Homo sapiens: one gene and its partners. The protein of the gene in region 4 interacts with the protein of the main gene of each other region in a pairwise test. Each region holds a gene or a part of one and is shown on either strand. Other genes may lie near its edges. The genes, in order: SLC41A1, FAM241B, C1QL4 and TRHR.

The links.
Region 1: the proteins of TRHR (region 4) and SLC41A1 interact in binary tests that used the Homo sapiens proteins (3 or more experiments, as listed by UniProt).
Region 2: the proteins of TRHR (region 4) and FAM241B interact in binary tests that used the Homo sapiens proteins (3 or more experiments, as listed by UniProt).
Region 3: the proteins of TRHR (region 4) and C1QL4 interact in binary tests that used the Homo sapiens proteins (3 or more experiments, as listed by UniProt).

What each region holds. Positions count from the first base shown.
Region 1 is NC_000001.11:205,810,199-205,818,964, forward strand, and holds the start of SLC41A1 (solute carrier family 41 member 1), read right to left. Parts: upstream 3,001-8,766; 5' UTR 2,610-3,000; intron 892-2,609; exon of another isoform or gene 890-891; 5' UTR 244-889; coding exon 1-243. UniProt on the Homo sapiens protein: Na(+)/Mg(2+) ion exchanger that acts as a predominant Mg(2+) efflux system at the plasma membrane.
Region 2 is NC_000010.11:69,626,440-69,633,246, reverse strand, and holds the start of FAM241B (protein FAM241B), read right to left. Parts: upstream 3,001-6,807; 5' UTR 2,934-3,000; exon of another isoform or gene 2,611-2,933; coding exon of another isoform or gene 2,588-2,610; intron 2,544-2,587; exon of another isoform or gene 1,972-2,543; intron 1,768-1,971; coding exon of another isoform or gene 1,700-1,767; intron 1,539-1,699; coding exon of another isoform or gene 1,504-1,538; coding exon 1,408-1,503; intron 458-1,407; coding exon 188-457; 3' UTR 1-187. UniProt on the Homo sapiens protein: May play a role in lysosome homeostasis.
Region 3 is NC_000012.12:49,333,600-49,342,422, forward strand, and holds the start of C1QL4 (complement C1q-like protein 4 precursor), read right to left. Parts: upstream 3,590-8,823; 5' UTR 2,879-3,589; coding exon 2,342-2,878; intron 1-2,341. UniProt on the Homo sapiens protein: May regulate the number of excitatory synapses that are formed on hippocampus neurons. Has no effect on inhibitory synapses. May inhibit adipocyte differentiation at an early stage of the process.
Region 4 is NC_000008.11:109,117,067-109,122,549, forward strand, and holds the end of TRHR (thyrotropin-releasing hormone receptor), read left to right. Parts: intron 1-1,981; coding exon 1,982-2,389; 3' UTR 2,390-4,499; downstream 4,500-5,483. UniProt on the Homo sapiens protein: Receptor for thyrotropin-releasing hormone (TRH). Upon ligand binding, this G-protein-coupled receptor triggers activation of the phosphatidylinositol (IP3)-calcium-protein kinase C (PKC) pathway.

The DNA of each region.
Region 1 (8,766 bases), on a different chromosome or scaffold from region 4:
TGTGCTGACGTCGTCACTTTCGTTGCTCTGGCTCCCGTTCTCCAGCAGGGCGTCCTCCTCCCGAACCCCCTTGGCGTTGGCCCGAGACTCAATCACCACCTCTACCCCAGCCCCATCAGGCCCCAGGAACTCTGAGGTCCCAGCCAAGGGCTCTCTCCCTGGGCCATCTGAAGAGCAGGGAGAGGCAGAAGGGCCAGTCCCGTTCAGTTGGTGGACGTCCTTCGGCTCTGGCTTAGAGGACATGACAGGCACGGAGGAGGGGAAGGGAGAACTTTCCTCTCTTCTTTTTGCTTTCTCTCTTCTTCTCTAACTTGGGAAAGAACTTAGTCTTGGGGTGAACCCAGGCTTGGGCGCCGCAGGACCTCTTCCCACGGCTCTCCACTCCTACCAGGCACTGCAAAAACTGATCCACCAACAGGCAGCCCCATCAAGCACTGAAGCCGCAAGCTGGGAAGAAACAAGAAATTCCTCACCAGACAGCCACTAGGGGTGCAGATGCCTGACTCCAACCCACCAGCTCTGTGCTTGAAGAAAAAGTATCTGTCCTCTTATCTTCTTTGGTTCTCAGTGGCAGGCTCCTCAGAGCAGGGGGCATCCAGAGTAGAAGAGCTCAACCAAATTCTGGGGTGCCCTCTGAAGTGGCCCCTCTTCCGTAAAAAGCAGCTTGAGTTCAAATCTTTCAGAACACAGTGCCAGCCTGGGGCTGCGGCTCCTTCCCGCTCCTTTGGCTGGGCTCTGTCAGCTTCCCACAGCTCCTCAGGCTCTGCTGGTCCCAGCGCAGCGTCTGCCGTCTTTCCCTTCTCTTCCAGAAACTTCCTCCCTTCCTGGGAAGAGCTAATACCTCTTCAAATCCCTGGTCCTTAAAGTCACGAGAATCAGTGTGGAACACCTTATGTGGGAAGGAGAAAGAAAAGAAAAAGAACATTACACTATAGCAAAGGACAGCTTGTACTGGGAGAATTTCCCCCCAAGGAAGTTAGGAGTTCATCATATAGCTATAGAGTTTGCTATTTGCCTCCCTTTTTCCGCAAAAATTACTCAGTCCTGCACTGCTCCATCTGGAGGCTCAGCAGGAGCTATCCCCGCCATCCTCCCCACCAGCAACCCTCCTGAGGGATCACCACCGTGGTCACCAGCAATGAGATGTGACCAGCCTGGGATTGGGAAGATGCTGTGCAGAAGCCCTCTGCACTGTTTCCTCAGCAACTGGGGGTGGGTAGGTGTGTCCTCAGCAAGACCCCTTCTTGAATGCCCATTAAGAACCCTGCATTATTTAAGTGGGGTTCAGTTACAAATTCAGTCACAAACTCCCTGCCACACAGCCACCCCTGTATAAAGTGACTGCTTATCATCACAAGACAGCAACAGAAAGACAGCCACACAGGGCAAAGAAATAGGGAGAAACTGATTGCTGAGTGAAGTCCCCCAGACCCCAGATCGTTCTAGCTTCTGAGAAAACAAAACAAAGCTAGGAGGACTCCCTGGGCAGTGGGGCAAGCCTGCCAGACCAAGGCCAAGAGCCAGAGGCCTACCCACTCCTGCCCTTGAGAGTCAACAGTGTTACAAAGAGCTCAGACAGCTGACTCGGATCCAGGCCTCTGTCTCTCCCCGTCTCCCCCTGCTCTTGGCCCTGTGAGCTTGTCAGATAGGACAAGGGAGTTATCTCAGTTAGAAGGGACAGAGCATAAAACGATTGCTTATTACCCACGCATTTCAGTTAATTAGGCTCCTCCTGTTCCCCAGGGTTACTGAGAGTTGGATATAGTGGAATTCTTAGAAACAAAAACAAAAAAACAAAAGTAGCAATAAAAAAAACCCAAAACAAAAACCAAAGCACCGTAAGCCAATATGCACTTGCTCCAAATGCATCTCTTTAGCTGTAATGGCTCCACTTCTCTGCCTAAAGGAATCCCCAGGCTTCCTAATTCCTGATGGACTCCCATCCTATTCCATTTCACCAGAAGAGCTCTTATTCGTAAAAAATAAATTTAAAGAGAGTTCCACCAGGTAAGAGGAACAGGTCCTTAAGTATTCCAAACACACACAATTAGTCAAGTTCAGTTTAGGAAAGGAGGTATCAAACCCCAGGAACTGGCCCAGGAGAACTGTTTCCTCTATCAATTCAGTCACCCACCAGGACTCCCTTTTCCAATCTCCTTAAACACAGTACTGTGGTTCTTTCAAACTCCCTCACCAGAGATCCAGGAGGAAACCTCTGAGTCCAGTGCCCCTATGCCAGAAAAGTTTCTGAGTCCGCTAAAAGCTGACACCCCCGCCTCCCTCCTGTGTTCCTGGCAGGCCACTGAACCTGAGAGGGGGCTCCCAGGAGGGGAAGCCAGTCCTCCCTCACCACTCCCCCTGTAAAGAGACTTCAGACAGGCCTAAGGCCCTGGGACGAAAGAAGCAAAAGTGAACCAGGACGCCCTATCCCCTCCTCCCAGGCGGGGACAAAAAAGACCCATTTTAGTATCCCCAACCCCGAGGAGGGAGAGAAAGTAACTGGGTGGCCTCCTCAGTCTCTCCACCACTCAGATTCAGCAAATGCGCTGCGCGCCAGGACTGCCGCCCTCCACCACCCCCTCCCCGCCCCAGGACCCCACAGGACTGACCTGCCCCTCGCCTGGGAGGAAGGGGGGCGCCTGGCAAGTGGCAGCGTGGCCCGTGGTCTCGGGGGGTGCAGGGCACCCCCTCTTCTCATCACTCCTCCTCGACAGTCCTCCTTGGCCCCCGGCGTGCCCCCCCACACCCCCAGCCAAGGCGAGCGTCCAGCCGCGACACCCGGCTCGCTACATTTCGCTTCTGCGTTACAGCGAGGCCGCCGCTCCGCTTCCACGCGGGGGAGGTGGCCGGGGAGGGCAGGATATATCGCTTCGGGCCCGGCGGGGGGGCACCCGGACGGGGGACCGGGGAGCCGAGCTCACGCGCCCCCAATCGCTTCTTGCCCGCGGACTCGGGCCCAACTGGTTGGCTGCCGGTGGCAAACGTGATCTGGGGCAGACTGGGTGGCACCCCCCCCGCTCCATCAAAAATAGATTCTCGGATGGACAACAGCAGCAGCCAATCAGGGACTGGGGAGGGGGCGGGATCAACCTCGGCCCGGCCCCCTTCCTTCGCTTCGTGCCCAGGAGGCGGGGCGCCGGGGAAACGCAGTAGGAGGAGTGACGGGAACCGGGAGCCGGCTCCATGCGCCTGGAGCGCGCGGGTCCCAGCGCCCATCGGCCCGGGGTCCGAGGGGCCCGCTGCCCGGGCTCGCTGCGTGGTGCTACCGCCCCCGGGCCCGCTGCGCCGCGTCGGAGCCCCAGCAGACTTTGAGAGGCGTGTGCGACAGTGCGCGTCCTCTCCTGCCTCTGGATGTTTCCTTGGAGCCTCTGGCCTTCGGGAAGACCGGTAAACGTCCCTGTGGAGCCAGCCAGCCAGCCACCTCTGACCCCCGGGCTCAAGCAGCCAGCCGCGTGCTCCCTCCTCCCACTTGGTACCCGGACAGAACAGTCCCTACCTTGCTCTTCTCCCGCCGGCTCGTCACTTTAGGCTCCCTCCAGATTCCGCGTTCCTTGAGCAAATGGCTCACCCCTGACGAATCCGGCCTTAAAAAAGTCCCGGCCTTGAAAGGGGTGGAGACTGGCGGGCGGGAGCGAAAGGAGGTCAGACCCATGGCTGGGGTCGCACACGCATCACCTGAGGTCGGAGAGGAGGGGAGCCTCACTTCCTCTGACCCACTGAGCCTGGTGGCAGCGTGCGGAGAGATGTCACCATCCCGGACTAAATGAAATCCAACTTTCCCTGACGCACCTTGTGGGATCAAAGAGGGGTGTTCCCATGCTCACCTTTCGCCACTTCCTCCCTGGGGTATCTCCACCTCTCCAACACAAGCTCAATGCCAGTTCTCTTTGGGATGTTTTTGTGCAGGGGGTGTGACCTCCCTCATAAAGGAACCCCCACTCCCAAGTTTTCCCCTCTTGTCAGTGGAACCTGTGACCAACGGTTCCTTCCTGTCCTTTTCCTCCCTGAAAGTAGCCCGGGGGCATTCGAACATGGCTCTAGACCCCTGAATAGGGTTTGGAGCGGAGATGTGCCTGGGGAGAAGAGATCGCAGTGCTGTGTATGAAGCTTTGGGCACGTGCTCACAAGAGCACACACAGCAACCTGAGCAGGTCATTCCTTTTGATAAGGATGACAAATACACATACCAAACCCTGTTCCCCTCACCCACCCCAAACCAGTACCCCCAGGATGATTCCAGATCAGCTCTGGAGCATTTGCATCAAGGGCCTGCAGACTCACAGGACCTACTAGAGCAAAATATCAGTGTCTCAGACCCCAGTTTTGGCCTCAAATACTGGGTTTTTCTGCCAGGAGAAGTAGCTGCTAGTCTAGGAAATGCTGGGACTTGTCCAGAAAGATGAGGTTTGTGAATACGGGGTGTGGGGTTGGGTGGGGAATTAAGGCTGATGTATCTGGAGGAACTTTGGTTGGGCTGGAGGCAACTTCTGCCCTGTTCTATTCAACAGTTCCCTCCCCTCCACTACCCCATTTAATCTGGCCACAGCTCAGCTACCTGTGTATAAAATCTTGATCTCTCTCCTATTTCCTTTCTACCTTCCGTGTTTTTACTTACTCGAAAACTGTTCCCCTCTCCTGTGTGTATTTTTTTAATTGAAATATACCAGGCATTTAGGAAAGGAACACGAAACCTAAGTGTACAGGTCAACAAATGATGACACAGTGAACACCCCCATATGACCACCATCCAGATCTAGAACGAGATCATTATTGGCATCCCAGATACCCTCCTTCTATCCGCTCCTGGTGACTATGCCACACTCCTTCTCAAAAGTAACGTTTATCTAACACTACAGGTTAGTTTTGCTTACTTCTGAACTTTATATACATGGAACCATTCAGTAGGTATTATTTTGTGTCTGGCTTCTCTCACTCAATACTATGTTTATGAAACTCATCCAAAACATTGTGGTAGCAGTAGCTTATTTGTTTTCATTGCCGTACGGTATGCCATTAAATAAATATACCACAATTTATCTGTTATTCTGTTGACGGACATTTTGGTTGTTCCTACTTTGGGGTTATTATGAATAAGGCTGCGATAACGTTTTTGTTCATGTCCTTTGGTACACTTACGTTCATATTTATACTAGATATATACCTAGGAATAGAATTACTGGGTCATAAAAGGATATGCATATTTTTAGCTTTAGCAAATGCGACTAAACAATTTTTCAAAGTGCTCATATTAATTTACACTCCTGCCAGCAGCGTCTTAGTGTTCCAGTTGCTCTATATTCTCATTAACACTTGATATTGTCAATCTAGAAAAATTAAAAAATTTAGCCATTCTGGTGGGTGTATAGTGGTATTGTAGTTTAAATTTGCTTTATCCTGATAACCAATGAAGTTGACCACCTTTCCATGCATTTATTTGACCCTTGGATATCTGTTCAAGTATCATGTCCATTTTCTATTATTCTATTCCTTCTGTCTTACTACTTTTTTTTTTTTTTTTTGAGATGGTATCTTGCTCTGTTGCCTAGGCTGGAACCTCTTGGGTTCAAGTGATTCTCCTGCCTCAGTCTCCTGAGTAGCTGGGACTACAGGCACATGCCACCATGACAGGCTAATTTTTGTATTTTTGATAGAGACAGCGTTTCACCATGTTGGCCAGGCTGGTCTCTAACTCCTGACCTCAAGTGATCCGCCCGCCTTGGCCTCCCAAAGTGCTGGGATTATAGGTGTGAACCACTGAGCCCAGCCCTGTCTTACCACTTTGTAGGAGTTCTTTATGAATATCAGATACGAGTCCTTTGTTGGTTATAGGTATTGCAAATATTTCTATGAGTAAATAAATACAAAAGCCCTTGGTTTTGGTGTCTTCTGAAGTGTCAGGGCCACTGGAACAAGAATATAATCTCTATATCTATTTTGATCACTAGTGTAAACCCAGCTCCTGGCACATAGTAGGTACTTAATAAATATGTTGAATGAATGATGGATGAGGTGGATAAAGCTGATGTAGGTACTTTGCTCTGTATTGTGCTGATCCCTAGAGTCAAACACCAAGAGGACCTGGGGGAAGCAGATTTCCTCTGGCTTAGCCAGCTGTGACCTTAGGAAGAGGAAGACATCCTGGCCCTTCTCTACTGAAAGAGCAGAAATAGCTACAGTCTGTGAAATGATGAGCACAGATGTAGGGAGCGGAGGTCACAGATGAAAAGACAGGAACTACCAGCAAGTAGCAGGCCAGCCAGATACTTCAGAAGGAGAGACGCAGTTGGGGGTATCAAAAAGATAGTGAGGGTCTCTGAGCATCACTGTGGACCTTTGTATGACAAGAACCTCCAAAGGTCATGTGGACTCTCTCTTGCCTCAAGACATGCCCAGTCTTTGAGCTTGTTAGCCAAGAGAGCTCTTCCACACCTAGAAACACATTTCTTTCTCCAAAGGAGGTTCCCTGAAACTTTGGTTGGAGGGTCTTATTCCTAACCTGCATTGGGCAACTCTTTTTTTAAAATCAGCTTTAACTTCCTCATGGCCTGTAATGTCCATCCTGAATATGGAAGACCACCGAATCAGCCTCTTCTCCATGCACTGTTTTCATAGGCCTGTTGCATTCTACAGCGTTTTTCTCTTGCTGTGTTTCTCTCCAGCATCCTTGACCAGCTCTGGTCAAGAGTCTCACTGATTCCTGTTACTCTGGGAGACAGAAATTTCCCCTTGCACCACCCTAACAAACTCACAGCATCCCCTCCTCATGTCTTTCAGAACATAATGTGGCATTTAACTAGAAGCTAGTAGTAGCACCCCAAATTTTTATATAAACTGAGCTTGGGGACGCCATCTAGTTGGAGAGAGGCTGGGTGACTTGTCATGAAACATCATTTGTATAGCAAGCACAGTGTTTTCATTTAGAATATGAGCATATGTTGGGTGTGGGGTGGGAAAGAGTGTTGTGGCAAAAGGAATTGTTGATCACTCCACAGGCAGGGGCCTGTGGAGGAGCCTGTGTGGGAAGGTCCTCTGTGGGGCAGCATTCTTCAGTCTTGCTTGGCACTTGTCCTAATATGTGGTTAATTTAGCCTCTATCCTGAGGTTCTCTTAGCCCCATGGCCTTCCTTCTGGGCCAAGTACTGTCTACCAATGGCTTCTCCATAGACTACCTGAATACTCATCTTGAGACATCATAAAATTCCAGAGCCCCATAGATCCTGGACCCCCTAACCAGCATGGCTAGTTGTAAGACTAGCCTGACGTGGCTGGAAACTTTTCTATCTTTTGTTCTGTGGGGGAGGGTGCCCCCTCCCATTTTTCCCCTTGCTGTGACCCCTCCGCTGCTCCCTCCCTCCCAGAGGTCAACTTCTTTCCTGCTGCCCAGAGCTGAGGTGACATCCCCTTCCGGCTTCATTCAGTTTTAGGAGGATGTAGTGATGGGGGTGGGATAGGGAAGTGTGGCCATCTGTGCTCAGCACTGTCATCATTCCCTTTGCTTCTCTATAACTGAGCTCCCTTTCCCCAAAGCCCCCTGGATACCCACCCTGGGATTCCCTTAGGCAGGATGGTTCCAGGTATTTGGAGCTGCAGCTCTGAATTTACTGAGTATAGCTGGGAAGCCTTGACAGCAAACAAAATGGTCTGGTGAACTATAACTGGGGATAGAAAAGTAATCTTTGAGAGGCAGTGCTGCAGAGTGGAATATGCCACAGCATTGTAATCACATGGATTTGAATCCATGAATGGCTCAGCAATTCATTAGGCACATGACCTTGGGCCATGTCTATCAAATGGAGACATAATTCCCTTTCTGCAATATATGTTCCATGGTGAGCAGTTCTATGCAAACCTACCCCCAAAGTCTGAGAAAGCTCAGAGGCCAAAGAGGCTGACAAATCTGGTTTCTTGAAAGAAGCATTTAATAGGGACTTGCGAACAGAAGCCCTGTCTATATCCCGGACAGCAGTAAGACCAGGGCTTGAATACCTTATAAGGAAGGAATACCTATACCTTACAGGGAAGGAATGTGTAGGACAATTGTAGGGAAAGGCGAGAATGCTATGTGAAGTTCCCTAAGGGCAGGATTTATGGTCAGTTGTTTTAACCTAAGAGCAGGATTTATGATAAGTATATGGTCTTACCAAGGAATAGTAGATAAAATAGAAATCTTAGAGGCATTTCCAGAACTGGAGTTAATCAGAAGTCAACATGGTGGATTAGCATCCAAGATGGAGTTGCATTAGCCTTCACAGATGATGAGAGGATTAGGATAATATAGCATTTGGAACATTCCCTGCACGCAGTAGGACTGTTAAGATCTCACCAAAGAGAAACAGCCAATAAACAGGGATTAGGCACTTGGAACGGGCAGCTCAGGCTTTTTCTGGGCCTCACGTGAAATTTTAGACTTCCCAGAGTGTGAGGGCATGCCTACCTGGAAAGGGTTAATGATGGACAGTCTCTTACATAGATGCAGGTAGGAGCTAATAGGGGCAGCAACCCCACAGTGGGTCACAAGCCAAAGATGAGCAAACTTTATCTTGCAAGAGCCAGGATGCAAAAAGACTGTATCTTGCAAACCAGATTACCTAGTTTCAAACTGCCCTCTGTGTTTACTGCCTACTGCTCTAGGATTATCCTCTAGACCAGGGTTTCCTAAACTGGCCTGGTCATAGGAATCACCTGTTGGGAACTTCTTTTAAAATATAGATTTCCAGGCCTCTTTCCTGGAAATTCTGTTTCCAAACGTCTGGTGCTGGGCCAGGA
Region 2 (6,807 bases), on a different chromosome or scaffold from region 4:
ACTTTGGAAATGCTGGACTAACGTCTCCCTCTGCCTCACGCTTAACACAAAGGGGAAACACACACCTGTGGTCCCCTCTCTGATCATACCTTCAAGGCACCACCAGATCCCCTCCAAATATGCCTGCTCTCACACCAAGGCCCAGCAAGTCCCTCTCAACAAACCCACCCCTATCAGCCCTCAGAGGTCACCGCTGACTCAGGTGGGACACCAGGTAGACAAGGCCAACCAGGAGGAGGCCACGAACACCAAGCATCATGAGCAGGAAGAGGAGCAGGATGGAGGTCACCGGCTCCACAGCATGGTTGCCAAGATGCCACTGCGGAAAGCCCATGTTCACCAGCTGCCGGTTGAGGTCATTGAAGGGGGACTGAGCAGCACCCAGCCTGGCACCTGCCTGCTGCTGGCGGGGGCCAGGACCCCCTGGGGGAGCACCATGGCCCCTGTTGAAGAAGCTCTGGAATGTGAAGACAGAGAGAGATGAATGAATCATTGGGTTGACGCACCAGCCAGGAATCAACCTCTCTAGGCTGCATCCTGCCCTTCCTACAGCCACCCAGGGTCACACCCTCCTTTCTCAGCAATCCCCCATGCCACCCATAAGAATCCCAACAACCAAGTCACAAGCTCTCAGAGCACAGAACATGCCAGTCTATATTCCTCACATCAGGCCCAGGACAGAGGAGAGAGGAAGTGGTTGAGGCAGGTTGGACTACAGGGCATGGCTCTAGGGCCAGCATTTTTAATACTCATCATCACTCCTTTCTTTTTTTTTTTTTTTTTTTTTTTGAGACGGAGTCTCGCTCTGTCACCCAGGCTGGAGTGCAATGGCGCGATCTCAGCTCACTGCAACCTCCGCCTCCCAGGTTCAAGCGATTCTCCTGCCTCAGCCTCCTGAGTAGCTGGGATTACAGGCATGCACCACCACACCTGGCTAATTTTGTATTTTTAGTAGAGATGGGGTTTCATCATGTTGGTCAGGCTGGTCTCAAACTCCTGGCCTCCTGATCCGCCCACCTCAGCCTCCCAAAGTGCTGGGATTACAGGTGTGAGCCACCGCGCCCAGCCACCCCTTTAAAATGATTATTCTGTGCCCAGGGCTCATCTCCTCCACTTCCTCTCCAGCTTCTGTCATCCAACCCACTCTTAAAAGAAAGACGCTAGCTCCAGTGAGGTTTGCTAACCAAGTTAAAGGAGAGAGAGCTCTTGGCTGTGAAGTCTGGGGAGGCGCCTGGAGAAAGGAGATCTGGGGAGGTAGACAATAAGCCACTGCATCTTCCCCAGCTCTCTGCAAAGAGGGCTTCAGGCTAGAAAAGGTTAGTGACCAGCAAGAGAGACTTCTGGAAGCTAGGAGTAGCCAGTACACAGGAGGCCATCTGTCCCACTCCACAGGAAATGAGTACCTACCTGTCGAGGAATGCTACCTCTTGGTGGCTGGGTAGTGGTCCTCACTCGGGGGTCGTCATCCTGCACGATTTCCCCATTGGCCAAGATCCGCACCATCCTCCCAGGCGCTGTGGGTCCCTGATGGGCTGCACCTGCATTGTGTGGTCAGGGTGGGCAGGCTAATGGAAGCCAAGTGGCACAGAAGTTCTCCCCACCACAAAACCTTTAGCTGTTAGTGATCTGGGACCAGACTCGTGAAGATCTGTGGAGGATTTTCCCCCTGACCTCAAAAAGCTTGAAGGAAAAAATTTACCAGAAATTGAGGGAGGCTTGCAGTCAGTGATGTTCACAGAGGTGACCCACGCTGAGTAGATGCTGTGTCTGATTAACAAAAAGGGGAGAAATAAAGGCAAGTTGTTTGCCAGGCAAAAAGATTTCAGACATTGAGTCCACCAGGAAAACTATCAAAAAGATCCTTGGCAAAGGAAGTTTTACTGCCAATCACTACACTGCCAACAGCACAACTGGGACTAGAGCCTCTGCTGTGGCCCACGCCCCGTGGAAGGCCCATCCTGCAAGGCTCACCTCACTCAAGCCTCACAACACTCCCCCGAGGAGGGTACTAGCGCGGCCATTGCACAGGCGGAGGCACAGGGAGACTTAAGTGGCCTGCCCGGGATCACACCTACGGACAGCAGAGAAGGAACACGAGGCCAGAAGCTCTGGTTCTAGGGCCCTCCCTGGGTACTAAACTGGGAGTCCAGGGCACCAGCATCCCCAGTGGGGTTCCAATTCCCTTCCACTAAAAAATGGGTCGAGTGTGTTGCTCCCCCAGGGAGTCAATGTCACCACCTGGGCCTTCCCCAGGAACACCCAGGGAGATGAGGGTCACTTCGGGGTTACTTTACAACCACTGCCTGGTAGCGGCAGACCATCCTAGCCATCATGCGCCTCGGAAGAGCACACCTTTGCTGCAGAGGGCACGCCCCTCACCTGTCCCTCACTTCGCAGGGAACACCAGTCCAACCTTGGCTAACGGGCGCAGGGCCCAGCCTTCCCAAAATATGGGAGGGGGTTGCTGCGGTGGCCCTCGAAAGGCTCCACTCCGCGGACCCCTGGACTGCGGGGCCCCTCCACGCCTCCCCTTGAGTCTGGGTAAAGGCCATTCATTCTCAGGAGATGAGCCTCAGTGTCCACCTACATTCCAGATAGCACTGGTGACATGTATGCCGAAAAAGGTCAGGAGCCCTGTGGTCTTGCCCGTAGCCTGGAGCCCGGGACAGGCGCGTCCCCCTCCTGAAGCCCGCTGGCCCTGGCGCAGGCCGAGCGGATGGTGGTCGCGCGCAGTCCCTTTGTGCTTTGTCATCGCGCCCCCGCCCGGTGGGCCACCCGCGCGCCCGGCCCGCGGCGCACCTGACATTCCGGGCCGGGGGCGGGAGGGACGCTGCCCCGGCCGCCAGCCCCAGCCTCTGGAGCCCGACACCGGCTCCAAGTCCCGGCCCGGGCTGCAGCGAGGGATGCGCTCCCTCCCCGGCGCGGCGACTCACCTGCAGGCGCGACTCCGGGCCTCGGCGGCGTCCACTCCCGGCGGCTCCAGGCGGTTTCCTCCCACCTGACCTCACAGGAAGCGCGCGCCGGAGGGGCGCGGCCCAGTGGCGGCGCACATCGCCCTCTGTAGGCCGCCTGAGGAATTGCACCTGCCCGGCCCAGGGTTGGGGGCGGCGCGGGGTGCTGGGGGTCGGGGAGATGGGGCGTGGGAAGGAGTGGGAGGTGGGGATGGAGAGAAAAGAGGATGGGAGGAGAAGACACGTGGAAAAGAAGGAGAAGAAGGAGGAGGGAGAAAAGAAGGAAAAGGAAGCGGCGTCCACGGAGGAAAAACCCAGGGGGTGGGGGCGCCCTGGCCTGGGAGGAAGGGCGGGCGCAGGCTCAGATGACCAGTGTTATGTTTGCTGACCCAGCTCCGTGGATGCCCCTTGAGTAGGACCCAACCCTGCCCTCTAGGAGTTCCAAGTTCAGTGGGGAAGATGAGGCAGGAACGGGGCAGAACCCTCTGTAGGCTTCCAGGAGAAGATGCGTTTGAGCTGGGGCAGGAGGGTAGGTAAGGATAGAGAAGGTCACTCTTGGCAGAAGGAACCACCTGCAGGGAGTGAATGATCCACCTCTGCCTCCTTCCTGATGTTTTAAAATCCACTTCTCCCCCACCACCTTCATAAGCTGCTCCCTGTGGACCTGCTCACCAGTGGGGGAGAATGAGCTGTGCAGTCCCACAGTCTGGGTTCAGGTTCTGGACTCTAGCAAGTTACTTAGCTGCTCAGTGTCACAAAGCAGGTGTAATCATAGCCTTACAGGACTTCTGTGAAGATTAAGTATGATGTCTCTGGCACATTGGCAATGTTGATAAACGTTAGCTATGATTATCATTTAATAAATGTTTGTGGGAGTGGCAGATATTTGTTGAGCATTTATTAGAACCCAGATTCTGCTAGCTGCTGGGCAGAAGGAACAAAACTAAGAGAGAGATTTAGACCTGGCCTGGAGGACTCATAGTCGGCCACCATAGTCTGATTATTTGATCATGAAACCTTATCAGCAAAAAATGTTTCACGGGTCGCTCTGGTATCTGTATCTTATTTATATGTTACTATTTTTGTTTGTTTCTAAATTACACATGTGTACTGTGAGAACAGATTGGCATGATGGATAAAAGGTGGCTGCTGGAGCCATCCTGTGTTTGAATGTTGGTGTGACTGCTTTCTGGCACTTTCGTGTCAAGTGCTTGGATGAGAGCCTGGCTGCAGTACATGCTCAACGGCTGCTGACTGTTATGATCATTACCTCTTCTACTATCAAGTCGATTGTAAAGCATGCACATTTTAAAAGCATAGGATGTAAAGTAAATATAAACCAAAATCCTAGTGCTTTCTCCCCACACCCCAGTGTGTTCCAGGTATGCCAAGTGCACGCATGAAAGCAGTAATCACAAGGCAGGATGCCCGATTGTCAGAGGTGGCCTGTGATCCCAAATCGCAATGTGCACATTGGAATTACCTGGAATGTTTAGAAACCATCCCAATACCTAGGTTCCACCCCAGAGATCACAATGTCGTTGATCTGGGTTACAATCTGTGCATGGAGACATTTTAAAAACCAGTCTTCTAATGAGCAGCTAGGGCCGAGAAACACTGCCTTCCATGAACAGAACCCCATAAGTAGGTCACGGAACTCAGGAGCCCCAAGAGGGAGGTAACCTCTGTGGGCTGGGAAACCAGGGGATACAGGCAGAAAATCATGGATGTTTTCAGGAAGATTTGAGCTGGTATAACTGCTGCCAGAGAGATACACTCCAGCTGGAGAGAACCGTAAGAGTCGAGAGGAAGAAGCAAGTCCCTACAGAAAAGTCAAGAACAGCTTTGGGGTGGGAAGTGATAGTGCTTGACTGGACTTAGAAATAGCCTATTATTACCAACTAAAATAGCCTAAGGAGGCAACATACCACTTTTGCTATCTCTCCACCTTCTTCAGGTGTCTCTCCTGCTCAAGAACCTGCAATGGTCCCTACTGTCTGCTCCAACAAGCCCCAACTCATTGGCAAGGCTTTGACAACCCTCCAACTCTAGCCCCAGCACACTGTCAGCAACTCCTTCCCTCAGCTCTGCCCACCTGGCCTCTTTGCTTTCCCTGAAGTAGATCACCCAAAGGCCTGCTTTGCTTGGGCCTGAATATCTGCTGGAAGGCCAGCTCCACCCAATCTAAATCCCTTCATCCACAAACGTGATTGTTTCATGTAATAATAATAATAACCCCTATATGTGCAGAGTCCTTACTTCCAAAGTGTTTTCCCAGAGACCACTTCATTCTTTTTTGGATTATGAAATAGAAAGAGTAGGTGTTATTATTCCTCTTTTACCAAGGTGAAATTGAGGCTCAGAGACAAGGTAGATGATGAGCCCAAGGTCAGTGACAGAGCCAGCGTTCAAATGAAGGCAGGTCCCCGGGCTCTGCATTCCAGGCTTTTGCATCCACCAAACAGACTCCCCTGAGTTCATCTCAGCTCTGCAGCCTCTTTACAATTGTGCCCCCACCTTCCCCAGTGCCATCAGCACAAGATTGGGCATTGGGTCATGCCTTAACCCCAACATGTGGTCAATAAAAATGTGCTTTTGGTTTTCTGTTCATAGCAGAGGTCATAATTTTTAAGTCAGGTGTCCTGGCCTGTTCTCTGACTCTGCAGGTGGGAACAACTGTTTCTGCCTCAAAAGAGAATGGCATGATGATAATGGTGATGTCATTTTAAATATATTAATCTATCTATCTCTTTCTCCTGCTATTTCCCCCTGTCTCTTTCCCCTACTCTGGCAGACACTATGCCTGTGTTTATTACTCAGAGAATGGTGTGGGAGAAAGGCAGCACTAGCTTGCCAGTGCCCACTGTTGGTGCCTCCTTAGGCCTGTGGCCATGGAAGACAGTATGACAGGGGCCTCTTCAGAGAAAACACTGGGAAAGGAGGAAATGATGGGAGCATAGGTGTTGTGTGCTGGATCTCAAAGGTGGGCATGAGGCTTGGGAAAGGGAATGGCCAGATAGTGAGTATGACAGGTAGGGCCTTATATGGCCTTGTGGAAATCCTTGGGTCCATTGTGTCTGAGGTGTGGTGGAAGGATTCTTGTGCTCCAGCAATGACAAGGGAGTAGTAAGTAGTAGTAGTAGTAGTAGTAGTAGTAGTAGTAGTAGTAGTAGTGGGAAAATTGCTGGACTTGAAAGGGTCAGGTAGACAGGTATGAAGGGTGGTTCAGTGATGGCCCTCATCCATGGACAGATGATGGGGGACCAGAGGATTGATGGAGGCCTCAGAAAACACCTTACATAGTCAGAAGACTGGAGTGGCCCCACAATATCTTGGTTATATGTAAGTATGTAAGTCCCCTAAGACATAAACCCACCTAGGTGTAATATATTAGCTTGAGTACAGGCTATGCTGCTGGAACAAAAAAAATATACAGTGACTCAATCAAGTAGATGGGCAGCTCTGCTTCACAAGGCCAGCCAAGGACATCCACTCTTCCTAGCTTATTGCTCCCCTACACCCTAGGATGCCACCCTTATTTGCGTCGTCAAAACTGCCTCACCAACTTCTTCGCCATATGCAGCTCATGGAAAGGTGAGACAGAAGAAATGAGGGCTAGTGATTTCTTTTAAAGAAAAGTATTGTAGGTGTAGCACATATTACTTCCCTCACATTCCATTGTGAAGAACGAGTCACATGGCTACAGGGCAGGCACTGATATCCCTGTGTCATTCCGGATATTGGTACTTGTGTCTTCTATCTTGTGTCTTTCACTTTTGCTAGAGGTTTATCAATCTTATTGACTGATCTTTTCAAAGAACCAGCGCTGCTTCACTGAGTCTTCTGTTTCTATTTT
Region 3 (8,823 bases), on a different chromosome or scaffold from region 4:
TGGCACGATCTCGGCTTACTGCAACCTCCCGGGTTCAAGCGATTCTCCTGCCTCAGCCTCCCTAGTAGCTGGGATTACAGACGCCTACTACCACGCCCAGCTAATTTTTTCTATTTTTAGTAGGGACGGGGTTTCACTGTGTTGGCCAGGCTGGTCTCGAACTCCTGATCTCAGGTGATCCACCCACCTCAGCCTCTCAAAGTGCTGAGATTACAGGCGTGAGCCACCGCGCCTGGCTCAGTGGTTTCCATTCTTAAATTATTTTTAATGCATTTTCAAATTACTATTCTCATTTTAAAAATAAAATTTGTCGGCCAGGCGCGGTGGCTCATACCTGTAATCCCAGCACTTTGGGAGGCCGAGGCCGGCAGATCATCTGAGATCGGGAGTTCGAGACCGGCCTGACTAACATGGAGAAACCCCGTCTCTACTAAAAATACAAAATTAGCTGGGCGTGGTGGTACATGCCTGTAATCCCAGCTACCCGGGAGGCCGAGGTCGGAGAATCGCTTGAACCCAGGAGGCAGAGGTTGCCGTGAGCCGAGATAGCGCCATTGCACTCCAGCCTCGGCAACAAGAGCGAAACTGTCTCAAAAAATAAATAAAATAAAATAAAATTTTGCCTATAGGATAATTTCTAAAATTCTGAACCGGCTGGGACCTCCTGTCAGTCCTCATGGAGGGTTGGCTTCCCCAGTGGTGGGGCATAGGTGTGCCTGTGCGTGTGCATAGGGTGCGGGCCATGATAAGGTGCACTGTTGCGCTCTCGCCTGTGGGCGCGGATTTCCCGACCAAGCACCCACTGGTGCCCAGGCGTGGGGGGTCGTCTTCTGCCAGAACAGGGAGCACTTCCTCCCCTCCGGGCTCATGGCGGTCGCTTCGGGCCTTCAGCCCCCCTCTTCTAGAGAGTCCCACAGGGGCTGGTTATTAACTCATTAATTATTCATCATTATTCTAATCACTATTTACCGTCCCCAGGGCCGCAGCGCCCGCACTGAAGAATACAGAGTGGGAGCTGCGCAGTCCCCTCCCCCTCTGAAACCCGCACGAATTAGTTACACACTGGCCCCCTCCACCTCCTCCCAGATACCCTGCATGGACCAAGCACACCTACTCGATGTCATATACAGATAGACACCGCTCTACTCTCACATCGCACTCCGCACTCACACACACTCCCTGACACACATACATATTCTTTCACTCCATGAGGACGCACACTCACTCCCTTTCCCCGGGTTCCTGGGGCAGCCCGGCTGGGATGAGATCCCAAAGCAGGTCTCGGGGCAGGTAGATGCTGCCGCGGTACCAGGCTCCTGCAGGCCTGAAGCTCCTGGGTCGCCACCACCCCCTTCATGCTGGACATCCAGAGGTCACCACTCAGCCCCAACCTCCCTCTGCAGCCTGTGCAGCTCTGGCACCTTCTCCCACCTACCCCACACCTGCGGCCTCTAGTTCCCACTATGTGTGAAATTTTGGTGCTAGAGCTTAGTCCTTGGGGCTATTCCCCGAAAACAGAGGCAACAGTGACTCCAACTGCCCACAAGGGCAGGGAACTGTGGAACCTGGATACTGAGAGATTGCTAGGGAGGGTGTGGGGCCTACAAGACCAGGCCAGGGCCCAAGGCTATTCTACCTGTCCCTTGCCTCTTTCCTCCCCCAAATCCATTCATTCCAGCCACCTGGCTGGCCCTTGAGCTGCCAAGCCACAGACTCTGCTGAGGGCAAGGCCGTTCTAGGCCCCCAGCCCTGGGGTGAGCAACAGAACAGCTGATCGGCAGGTGAAGTGAGCAGGCAAATGTTTTCTTCCTTTTATACCTTTTCCTCAAACATCCAACCCGAATGCCCTCAACATGAGAACAGCTGCTGACTTCCTATTGCCTGAGACATGGATTCCATTCTAATTCGAAGGAGCCTAGACTCCAGTTAGCTGGTCCAATGCAAGGCTGAGAGACCCAAAGGCCAGGGGGGCTGCCGCAGAAGAAAGGATAGCCCAAGACAGGACGAGAAAAGAAGCGAGTTGGCAGGGCGAGACACCAAAGACATCTGGTGTTGCCCATAGTTGCAATGTGAGGTCACAGCTGCAGAGACACTCAGGTTTAAGTCCTGAGTTCTAATTCTAACACCATTCCTACACTCCGTGAGGCCCTAGGCAGAAGGTTTTCCTTCTCTGGCCCCCAATTTCCTCTGTGGGTAAATGAAGTCATCTATCGTTCTTGGCAGCCTCGCGTTCCTGGATTCAGTGACGCTGTTTCGGGGAATAATCTCAGGTTGTGGGATGAGTGCAGGGAGATCTAGAGAGCGACCAGTCTGAGCTGGGTTGGGGAGAGGGGCATCTCACCTGTCCGTTCTTCATGAGGTCGGCCCACATGCTGGTGCCGTCGCCGCCGCGCATGAGCACGTGGTAAGCGAAGAAGTAGACGCCTGGCATGGGGCAAGTAAACTTGCCGCTGGCTGCCTCGTAGGCGTTGCCCACGTTGGTCACCACGTCGTCGAAGCGCAGCACCTCGTAACCCTCGTGGGGCCGCCGCAGGCCCGCGTAGAAAGCAATGCGAGGCACGTAGCCGGCAGCGGGCGCCACCCCGCCCGGACCTGGACCGGGAGGGCCCGGGGGGCCTGGCCTGCCGGGTTCTCCTGGGGGCCCTCTTGGACCTGGTGGTCCAGGGGGCCCCCGCAGGCCTGCTTTCCCGCGCCGGCCCACCTCTCCCTTGGCGCCTGGCGGGAAGGGGGGCACGGAAGCAGGCGCGCCGTCGGGACCAGGGCCACGGGGCCCATGCGGGTCGCACACCATGCGGCAGCGACCCAGCATCTCGTAGTGCGCTGGCCCGCGGGAGCTGTGCACCAGCAGCGGGATGGCCACCAGCAGCAGCAGCACCATGGCCACTCCGACGGCCGCGCCCGCCACCCTCTTGCGGCGGCTCAGCCGCGACGCTGCCAGGGCCAGCAAATCTTCCTCACTCTTGGGCGCAATGGCTGCCGGGGCCGGGGCTCTCCGCGGGCCAGGAGGCGGTGACCCGCCTTGGGCCTGGGTCTGCACTCCCCCGACGGCTGCCCCCCGCTCCCCTTACCCTGCCTCTGCGGGCTCCAGCCGCGGCGGTGCCGCTCCCCAAGCCGTCCGTCAAGGGGAGGCCCCTCGTGGGTTACGTCAGGGGCAGCTCCCGACGGTCCAGAGCCAGTGGTCCTCTAGTACCCTCCCGTTCAGTCCTAACGATCCTGGGCACCTGAGATCCGCGGCTTCTCGGACGGCTGGTTTCTTAGGGATCTGAGATGCCTGCTCTCCAGACTGCTGCTCTCTCAGGGATGGCGCGGTGCCTGGGTCCCAGACTGCCCAGATAGACCACTCCCTGATGGAGAGGGGACTGCTCCCCGCGCTCCGGACGTCCCGGGCTCTGAGCTGCGGGTGCTGCTCACCGGGCGCGATCTCCTAGTAGGTTTTGCGCTCTGCCTCTTGGCAAGCACCGACTCACCTTGCTACCCCTGCCGCGGCCCCAGTCCCTGCTAGAGCCCTGGCCCGCGCCTCTCTCCTGCGGGCGCGGTCCCTCTCCGCCTCCCTAACCTTCCTCCCCTCCCTCCCGGGCGCGGGTGGTATGAGGCGCCGCGCGGCGGGAGCCACTATAAGCGGCCAGAGGCGGAGCGACCCCTGGTGCCCAGAGTGGGAAGTGCGGGGGCGGGGCAGGCAGCGGCCCCCACCCACGTCCTCCCCGCCTCCCCTCCACTCCCCCACTGCCCCTAGGTTCCTTCCCGGCTCTGAGCGGGTTCTTCAGGGTTTCGCGGCCCCCGCTGTATCTTTACTTTTACCCTTTACCCGGAGTTTGGCATTCTCAGAGGCCAGAGGAAACCCAAAACAGCGATGGGATAAAGAGGGGTCAAGATACAAACACGCAGAGAAGACAGGGGTAGATTCCCGAGCTAAAATGAGGGGGAGGGACCTCACAAACAAACAGAAAACAAAATAAGAAGGGCTAGAAAAGATAGAAATTCACCACCCCACGCACCTCAGCGCCCGTGACCGAATAACATGGTAAAGGATTCAACTGATACTAGTTGGCCTGAACTGGAAAAGGCAAATCTCTAGCCAACCCTACCCCCACCCCTCAGTATTGGGGCGCGGAGCGGAGTGTGTGTGTGTGTGTGTGTGTGTGTGTGTGTGTGTGTGTTTGTGTGGAGAGAGAGAGAGAGAGAGAGAGAGAGAGAAAATAAGAGAACAGATCAGCCCGGGGGAGCAAGCAAGAAACCGACAAGAAAGCAGAGAAGGAGCGACAGAAATCAAAGAGAAGGAAAGCTAGATAGAGATGCAGAGACAGAGACAAAGCTTCGAAAAGAGACGGACTGACAGCCCCAGAGGGGGAGAGGGAGAGACAGAGACAGAGGAAGAGAGACAGAGCCGGGACAGGTTGACAGATCGAGAGAGAAATGTAAATGGCGCGCTGCAGAGAGACACCCAGGTCCGTGTTTGGACTCCAATGTGACATATCAACTGTGGGGAAGATGCGGGGGCAGGGCGGCTCTGCCAGCAGTGCTAGGCTCTGGGCCTGTGCATTGTGACAGTGTGCTCCAAAGTGTGGAGGTGGCCATGGGATCCTGGCCCTGTGTGTCCCTGGGTGAGTGCGATTGTGGATTGTGTGTTGTCTTTGTGTATGTATATGTGAGGGCTGTTTGAAGGGAGGTATTTGTATTTGTCTTCCTCCTAGTCCCTCAATTTGGAGCCCACAAATGCCATTTTTCCTACCTTGGGACTGAGAATGAAGGACTCTACTGGACAGAGAGGAAGTCAGAAGACAGCTGTCTTCTCATTTGCCCTGCCCAGCTCAGCCCAATGCCACCCCTGCCCTGGTCCCAGACTTATCCAGTCCCAGGAGTCTCTGCCCCTTCCTCCTTCTTCAAGAGTTTGTTGTTAGATGAAACCCAGAGAAGTTGGATCCCACATAATGGGTATTTGGGTGGGGGTTGAAGTTGGCCATGCAAATTAATGTAAGTAAAATGCAGATTAGGTGCTAGGCACCCTCCTGTAAGAGGGGACTGTATCTGTCTTTCCGAGCGGCCAAGACATTGCTAGACACAGGCATTGCTAGATCAGAGTCCAGAGAAAAAGCTACTGGCTGCATCCTCTCTTAGGGCCTGGGCCTTCTGGGGAAAATGTCTTGCTCACAGGGACCCCAGAGGCTAGGAAAACAGGTTCTAGGACTGGTAAAAAGTGGGGGCATTTGGAGACCCTGGAGGTGAGCAGCTGCAAAGGCCTCTTAGAGACCAGGATAAGCCAGGACTATCATGTATGGGAGAACATTGTGTAAGATGGAGGGCACAGGGCACACCAGGGCATGATTATTGGATGGAGAGTGATTTCCTCCTCTCTTGTTTTCTGTACTCCTTCCTTGCACCCCCGACCCCCGCCTCATAATGATGCTGGGAGAGAGAGGTTCCTAAGGCTGGGCCTGTGTTGGGGGTTGGGGGAGGCCCCTACATGTCTGCAAGGAGTGGGAGAGAAAGGATTGGCAGTCAGTGGGGGAGGGGCCTCCTCCTCCAACCATAAATACAAATTTTATTCAAGGTCTTTGTCGCCATTTGTCTTCCTCGGGGGGCTGAGGGCCGTGTCAGCCCTCTGCATGTCTAATTCCGGATCTGCTCCCCCAGGCTGGATGATGGATGGATCAGAGAGCAGGCCCAGGCTCACACCAGCCTCCCCTGCCTGATCCTCAGGCCCCATCCACCCCAGGTCCTGACTCCTCTCCCTCCCTTTTCCCTCCCTCCACTCACCAGAGACCCCCTCTGCCCAGCCACACTCCTCACTCCACTCATTCTACTCACCAAGGTCCCCTTTTTAAGTCCCTCACCTCAGCCCCTTTCAGGTCCCAGTCCTCTTCTCTCTAGAGCTTCCCCTCTCCTCCCATCCCCAGCCCAGGCTGTGAGATGTGGTGACCAGCAGGGCTGCAGGCAGCAGCGGATCTGTGTGGTCGGGGGAGCCGGCTTGGCTCACGGGGAGCTGAGGGGCCAGCTCCATGAATTTATTCATGTTCTGTTGCTCTTTTCCCACACTCTGGAATGAAGCTGCCAGCTCACCAGGTCCTTATTGCTTCCCCTGCAGCTGCCACATTCTGCCAAGAAGGGACCTGGGTGGGGCCAAGGCCAGCCTGTGCACCTTGGGCCAGAAGCCAAGTGTCTGGGCTCGAGGCAATGCTGGGGCCCAGGCCAGGGTCTGGGACAATTTTCCCAGAACTCCTCTGGCAGCCAAACTGGGAAGCCCCAGGGAGGTGGTATGGTTGGGAATGGGAAGTAGGTAGAGAAGGGTGTGCTGCAGGACAAAGAAGGGGCAGTGGAAGTGGGGGGCAGAGTTGGCAGGGGGAGCGGAGAGGAGAGGAAGCCTTTAACAGTTTCCTAGGCTCCCCCACTTAAAGGTTAATGCAGCCTTCAGACAGACCAGTCTGTCCTTGACTCTGCATTAGCCTTGACCCTAACCCCTATTTATATACTCGACTCCTCTTCAATCCTAAAATGAATTTTAACTCCATAAACTGACCCTAAATGGAATGCCTCCCTCACCTGTCCTGGAACCCAGGGGGATCCCCAGAATCCCCCCCAGGGCTATAGCTAGGTGTGTGTCAGAGTTCTGAGGACCAGACTTTGGATTAGCATGTGATTAGCATATGATTTGCATGTGATATGTGCCTTCTACTCTGTGGAAGTTTTCATGTTAAAATTTTATGAAGTCTAGTGGAAAGGTCCTGGCTCCTTGAAAGTTCTCTCTTTTTGTTCCTTCTCTCACACTTACTGTCACTGACCCAGACCCCCTCAAGGGAAGAAAGGGGGTGAAGAGGTGAGCAATAGAGGGCCCTTGGGAGGGAAGGCTCCAGCAGCATGATATGCCTGCATCACTTGAACGTGCCTCAGTTTCCTCATCAGTAAGAGAAGAGAAACCTCCTCGCTGCCTGACATTTTATCAAGATCTAAGGAAACACTTTTTTTTTTTTCCTTGCACTCTCTCCTTCCTCCCCTTCAGGGCCCGTCACAGTGTGGTTCTCCCTACTCATTCCCACACTCTGGCTTTCAACTCCCACATTGAAGATCACATGGATCTGGAAGCAGCCTGGGTTGCCTGGTAGCAGTCCTCTAGTATGAAGACAAGGGAATCCACGTGAGAGGACAGGGGACGGCATGGAAAGGGAAACAACATTATTGAGTCCTTATTGTATTTTAGGGCTTTAACATGCAACTTCTCGTTGCATCCTCACAGCACCCTTTAGAGTTAGATCTATTGTCCCCATTTTAAAGATAAAAAAACTGGGGCCCAGAAAGGGGAAATGGCTTGTCCATTATCACCCTGTAAGGGATAGTCCTGGAATTAGAGTTATGACCTCCTGGCTTCCTTCTCAGTTCCCTAGAGGAGACAAATGGCACCCAAGGCAGTGGAAGAGTGAGAGAGGCAGGCCAGGAGTGGGCAGTGAGATTTGAATGGCTTCCGGGAGCCTTTTGTATGTGAGGCCAAAAGGGTTGGGTCTTGGCTCCGTGTATCCCCCAACCCCCACCCTGACACTGTTAAGCATGATGCCCAACAGGTGCTCAACTGTTGGCTAAAGGATGGCCAAAGTTAGTTTCAGAGAACAACCGTCCAGATGGAGGAAGAGAGGGCAGAGAAAAAGGAAGGCAAAGGAAAACGAAGCGAGTCAAGGAAAATTTGCTTAAGGGACAAAAGGGAAGCCTGAAGCCGGCTGTTCTCCGACTGCAGCTGGGAAAACCGTCCCAGCCCAAGAACCTGCTCATGGTTTGCCTCCTTGCAGAGACTACCCTCCTGCCTCTGCCATCACGGCCAGGCCCAGGGCTCCCACTCATCAGCCAGTGCCTCTGGCACCAAAACTCAGTGCAACCTTAAGTTCAAAGTATCGCACCAGGGTCCACAGGGCTGAAGACAAGCTCCTGGCTTCTCAGAGAGTGGGTAAAGACTGCTTCCAAGGTGTCTGCCAGGTCAGAGCTGTTGCTGACTTACTTCGGCAGCCCTCCACCCCTGGCCAGGTGCTGCTCCTAGCCTTTGACTCCTCCACCTCCCTTTGTGCCCCCCTCTGCCTCCACCGCTTGCCAGCTCCAGCCTCCAGTTAATGAAATGTGGGGATCGGCTGCACAGAGAGCTGTCAGACCCCTCATTTCTCCTCTGGGATATTGACTCCGGGTCTGGGAGACCCACAGGTGAAAGGAGGCGGGTGGGGTGCGGGAAGTTGAGGTAGGGGCGCATACTGATGAGAGCCCCGAGACCAGGAGGTAGTGCTAAGCTCCAAGTCTCGAGGGCTCGGCTAAGCGAGGAAGGCCCTAGGATGCTCTTTCTGCTTGGGGTCCCCAGCTTTTCTCTGACGAGCAGGACACTTAACGAGCCCCAACCCACCGCACCCGGACCTGGACCCCGAACTAGCACCCCAGGCGGGCTGGACTTCAGTGAGCGCCGCGCGCAGCGCCTCGGAGCCAGAGACCGCTGCCCGGTGCTTCCTCCCATCTTCTTCCATCCCTTCCCTCTTGCTCCCCCTCCCTCCTGCACTCCCTCCCCGGCGGCCGCGGCCTTTATTAGGGATTCCGCGGCTGTCGGTCCCGCCATCCATCCTGTCCGCCGGCAATTAGGCGGCCAGACAAAGAGCAGCTTCGGATGGATGAGGGTCCCAGCGGATCGGAAATGTGAAGGGTCAGCGCTGCCGCCCGCGGCGCACCCCGCTCCCCCTTCCGCATAATCACCGGCCGCCCGTCACTCAGCCGGCCGCCCAGGGAGCTCCTGGGCCCGGCCCGGGAGAGGGCGGGGTGCGGCTGCAGCCTAGGCGCCCAGGACAGGGCGAGGGCGGACCTGCGGCA
Region 4 (5,483 bases):
TGTAGGGAAAGATAAAGGTAGTTGAAATTCAACCTTTCTTCTGAAATTTAGCAGCAGTAAGTGTTGTTGGGTTTATAATTGAAGAATTTAAGTGTTTGGGTGATCATAATGGAAATAACACAGTAGAAATGTTATCGAAAATGCAAGAAACATTCATGGAAAGGGCAAAGTATATAGGAAGGAGCATGACCTTTGTCTTAAGTAGACAGATTTGAATCACAGCTCTGTCACTTACTACTCATGTGTCTGTAGACAAATCATATAAATTACCTAAACCTCAATTTCTTCACATGCAAAATGAAAAGAATACTAGCTTACTCATGGAATTACTATAAGTATTAAATAAGATAATGTTTATATGGCATTTTTCAGATTACTTGGGCCATCTTAAAGGACTAAAATGTGATGGTATAGATCTAATTGTAAATTAAACTAGGTATTTCAATGTAGGATGCTTTACCCCTGACAGGGAGTGGGAGAATGTTGACAAGTGTGAAGCAGTGATCTGATTTCAGAGTGCCTGGAGTACCAAGCAGAGAATAAAGGCAAGGGTGTGGTTCATAATGACGAAGATCATGGTGATGATGACAATGAAGATGATAATCACTACATCTCCTTCCAAAGCTTAGAACATTTATCACTTTGATTTCCTATGACTAATTATTTACTTATATATATTTTTTAAAGTCTACTTAGGAAAAATCATGTTTCAGTTAACCCCTTTGCTAAGTAGACCCTCTTTGGCTCTAAAAGAAGTCAGAATCTCTGGAATGTCTTAGTTGGTATTATATGAACCAGTGTGAAATCACATATTCTCACTGAACAATTTTTCTACTCCTAGTGGTAAGATACGTAGCCTTAATATCCTACATACATTGAGTCAGAATGAAGCTCAGTGAACAGTGAGCAATCTGGGATATTGACCTCATCCTACCTATTGTCTTACTTCCTGTGCATTGCTTATACTTAGGAGTGGCTTCAGCATTAGGTAAAATTCCAGCATTTGCTTTCTCTCTCTTTCACTTCCCTTTAACCTGAAAGAGTGCAAAAGCTTTGAATTCAAGCTCACTTGGACAGTAATCCCAGCCCTGAGACTCTACAGCTTCCACCAAAGTACTTAACAGCCTCTGTACCTGTTTTCTAATTTGAAAAAGTAGTGGGTACAATACCTATTTTAGGAGGTTTAAAACTTTTTAAACATGGTAACAAATAAACACCTTGGATAGTGTCTGGCACATAGCAGTCACTAAACATTCAATAAACACTGACTTTTTTGCATTATTCTTTTCATGCACTGTTACCTCATTTGATTTAGGAGGGCAATGTTGGCTCCATTTTACAGATGAGCTATAAGATAGGTTAAGATAATTTCTTAGGCCACACATAGGGTAAGTAAGGAAAGGATTTGACCCTAAGTCTCCTAATGCTTGTCACAGACACTTTTGGTGCCCTGTGCTAACATTCTCTTACAAGACTCTGATTTCAGCCATAGCTGCAGTAGATGGTTCCTGCAGTGGGAAATATCCCACTTCAGGCATCCACTGTACCATTTGTCTCTCCTCTTCTTGGCCTCAAGTGTCTCTCTAAAGGCCCTAGGAGTTTTCAGGCAAGAGAATCCTGGAAGTACACAGGAGTTAAAGTCCTTAACAATATCCTTTAATGAATGGACGCTGGCATTCATTCTCTTACTTCTGACAGATAATTCTCAATTGCATTACTTGAGCCAGAGTTGGCTATAGGGGGAGCTATCTCAATAACACACTGCTTTGGCTTTTCCTACTTTGGCTTTTCCTTGTCTATAGCATTCTAATTGATAACCCTTAATCCTGCTTCCTGGGATCACCTCCCCAATAAATGACCTGCACCTAACTCCTTGTCTCAGACTACATTTTGGGAACTAAAGGTTTGGGTGAGAGAAGAAAGGGGGTTTTGTTTTGTTTTCATTTGTGTTTGTACAGCATTTCTCTCTATTTCTCCCTAGGTCACCAAGATGCTGGCAGTGGTTGTAATTCTGTTTGCCCTTTTATGGATGCCCTACAGGACTCTAGTGGTTGTCAACTCATTTCTCTCCAGTCCTTTCCAAGAAAATTGGTTTTTGCTCTTTTGCAGAATTTGCATTTATCTCAACAGTGCCATCAACCCGGTGATTTACAATCTCATGTCCCAGAAATTCCGTGCAGCCTTCAGAAAGCTCTGCAACTGCAAGCAGAAGCCAACAGAGAAACCTGCTAACTACAGTGTGGCCCTAAATTACAGCGTCATCAAGGAGTCAGACCATTTCAGCACAGAGCTTGATGATATCACTGTCACTGACACTTACCTGTCTGCCACAAAAGTGTCTTTTGATGACACCTGCTTGGCTTCTGAGGTATCCTTTAGCCAAAGTTGATTCATGAATTAGAAGAAAATGGATGACAAAGAAAATGAGAATCTGTGCAGTCATCAACAAAAGGGAGAACATGGCCAATAGTCATATGTGAAGACAGAGCAGATCAGTCTTTGTCAATGCTCTAACAAATTCTGGCCCTAGATACTTTAACCCATGAGGATGATTCAGACTTTCCTTCTTACAAACTAATATCACTAAAAATGGAGCAGATCTGTGAAATAGCTAAATGATGGAAACTTAAAGTTTAGCCCTTTTCATTTAACTTAAGAAATTCACTATATTTTCTGGACTTATAGAGTTTCAATAAAATCTAGACATCAATTTACATTATTCATAGTAACCTTATCAAATGTCACTTTTCAACTTCCCTAATTTATTTATACATTCGATAATTTGACAACATGCAGATTTTTAAATGTTTGCATTTAGTATTCATTTTAACATAGTACAGGGCTAGTTCATGAATATCTGAAATTAAAGGGAAAAATATTACAGAAACATTTTATTTATTGAGTAAAAATAAGATTTTAGACATACATGTTAACTGTATTTTAAAAGTTGCCATAATGTTTATAAAATTCTGAGATGATTTTTATATCTTAGAAGGTAGATAATCATCACTCAACTTTAATGTAAAATAAACCTCAAAATATCTGAAATTATTAATTAAGGAGAAATGTAGATTTTAAGATAAATCCAACTCTTATCAACTCTTCCAGCCTCCCACATGATGGGTGGAAAAAGGCAAAAGCCCAGATTAAGTAACTGTGAAGATACAAACTAACATACAATTAAATTTGAAAAGTATAGTCAAGACAAAGCAAGTATTTATAATTAGATTTTGCTTCTTCTCTGACGCTTTTAAGCAATAAAATCTTTTTGAACATTCTTGTTTATAAACTACTCAGCCATGTCAAGCAAATCATTCAAGCAAAATCTAGCTGAAAAGTCTGAAACATTCTTAAAAGCTTTGTTGTTATTCTAAGTCAGCCAAAATCCTGGTATCCCTCTTCCAGATAAAGAGCTCCCACTGAGAATTGTAGTCTATGGATTTTACCTTGACTGCAATTGTCTTTCCTTCCTATCTGCTTGTTGTTTGTAGGTTCTTTTTTTGTTTTTCTCAAATGCTAGTGATATTTTGTTTACAGATTCTAAAAGCAATGCAAAATTCTGTTGGCTTTATTTTCAGCAGAGTTAAAACTGATTTCATCATATTATCAGTATGTCATCTTTATATTTATGACTGACATCTGCTATTCCAGTGTTTATTGGAGACTTGTGAATGAATCTGTCCAGGACACTTGTCAGTTCCTACCTGAATCTCTTACCTATTGAGATTTGGCCAACCAGAATCTCCGAGGGCAAAAATTGCCCTTGGTGATGGTTCAGTAGTCATTGATTTTTAATGAGTAGATCAAAAAAGTACCCATACCTTTACATGCCCGTAGGCTGTCATTTTCCCTCTCCAGCCTATATCCCTATTTTATGGACTTTTCTAGAACCTAATCGCTAATGATAATTATGCCTCCCCATCTTCTTAATGAAGAATATACCATTCTTCTGAAACTTGTTTTTACGTGCTGTTTCATGGAGACTATGCTATCCAGAACCTCATTCTAGAGTGCGCTTTTTTTTTTTTGAAAATTGGCCTTATCTACTCCAGCAAGACATTTTTATCCTGTTACTATAACAGTAAATGAATGCAAGCAAATATTTGCAGGAAATACCCTAAAACCCTACCTGCATGACAGTAAGCAATCTATGTTAACTGACTTTTCATTCTGGTATAAATATTAATCTTGGCATCATATAAATAGAGCACCAGAGTGACCCAACCCCAAATCACACAAGCACATGTGTGTTTATAAACACATACCCACATGTTCATAAATTGGTGAAAAAGGGGATTGGAATATACGAGATTTTTTCATTACAGAAAGGACCTAATATCATTGAGCATCGACTATGTCTCAGGTATGCTGGTAGGTAGTCAATCAACATTATCTTCATCACAATTTCACTACAGCTGTAATTTCTCTGATGATTAGACCAGTATTCCTGTGACCTAATTCCTAATTAATAAAAAGTTATGGATTTTGCAGAATGATTATATCAGGTGTTAAAAAATACAATTAGTTTAACATGATATACACAGAATACAAAGATGCTCTTCTTATCTTTGGAAATTTAATGTATGGGCTGAATTCTTTCACTTTAATTTTTAAAAAGTTATTTCTCAAAAATCTGTTAGTTTTAGACCACATGGGAAATTCATAAGAACTCAGTTCATAGTGTTTTAACTCTAAAGCAAATGCCATTTTAAAATTAAATGTTCCTATATAATGTCCAATAGATATTTGAATTTACACAGAAGAGATATAACTTTTTAAAATATTCTTTATCACACTATACTCAATCATAAAATATTTCCACAAATAATCAAAACTTAATATACCACCAAATGAGAAATAAAGAGCTAGTTTAAAATTTGCTGGTGAAATCAAGTAATGTTATTAAGAGCCCTCCTTAATAAAAATTCCCTGTGTTCTTTTGTTACTTCCAATTTCATTAATTGCTGAGGGTCTTTGGTTAGATATCATACCTGAGGTAATTGAGTAAAGGGCACAGATCATGAATAAAATGAACAAACATAAATTCCCTCTTAGGACCTAAGGGCTGTGAGTATATTTCTAGACCTTAACATACAAGGCAAATATTCTAAATGCTGAAGAAAAATAAGACAAGTCCAAACTTTACAGTCATTCTTAAACAAATTGAATGTACAGAACAATACACCCTGATAATATACCAAAATTAATGGCTGATTTGGCTAAACAATTAGCAATGTCAAAGGAAAAGCTACAGCCATAAAACTTAGTTTAGTACAACTAAGTCTTGATGGATATTTGAAGTGTTTTATTTTCAGAAGACTATGTTGGAATAATAAGAACAACATGTCTTAGTAAAAGTTGGGTCAACATAGTTTTGGTTGGCTCTTCAAGAATAAAAGAATTTATATCATTCTAAACTATGTTAAACCTGTAAACATGATAAAGAGAAAATATTAACTTTCAGAAGGAAAAGATTTTATGTG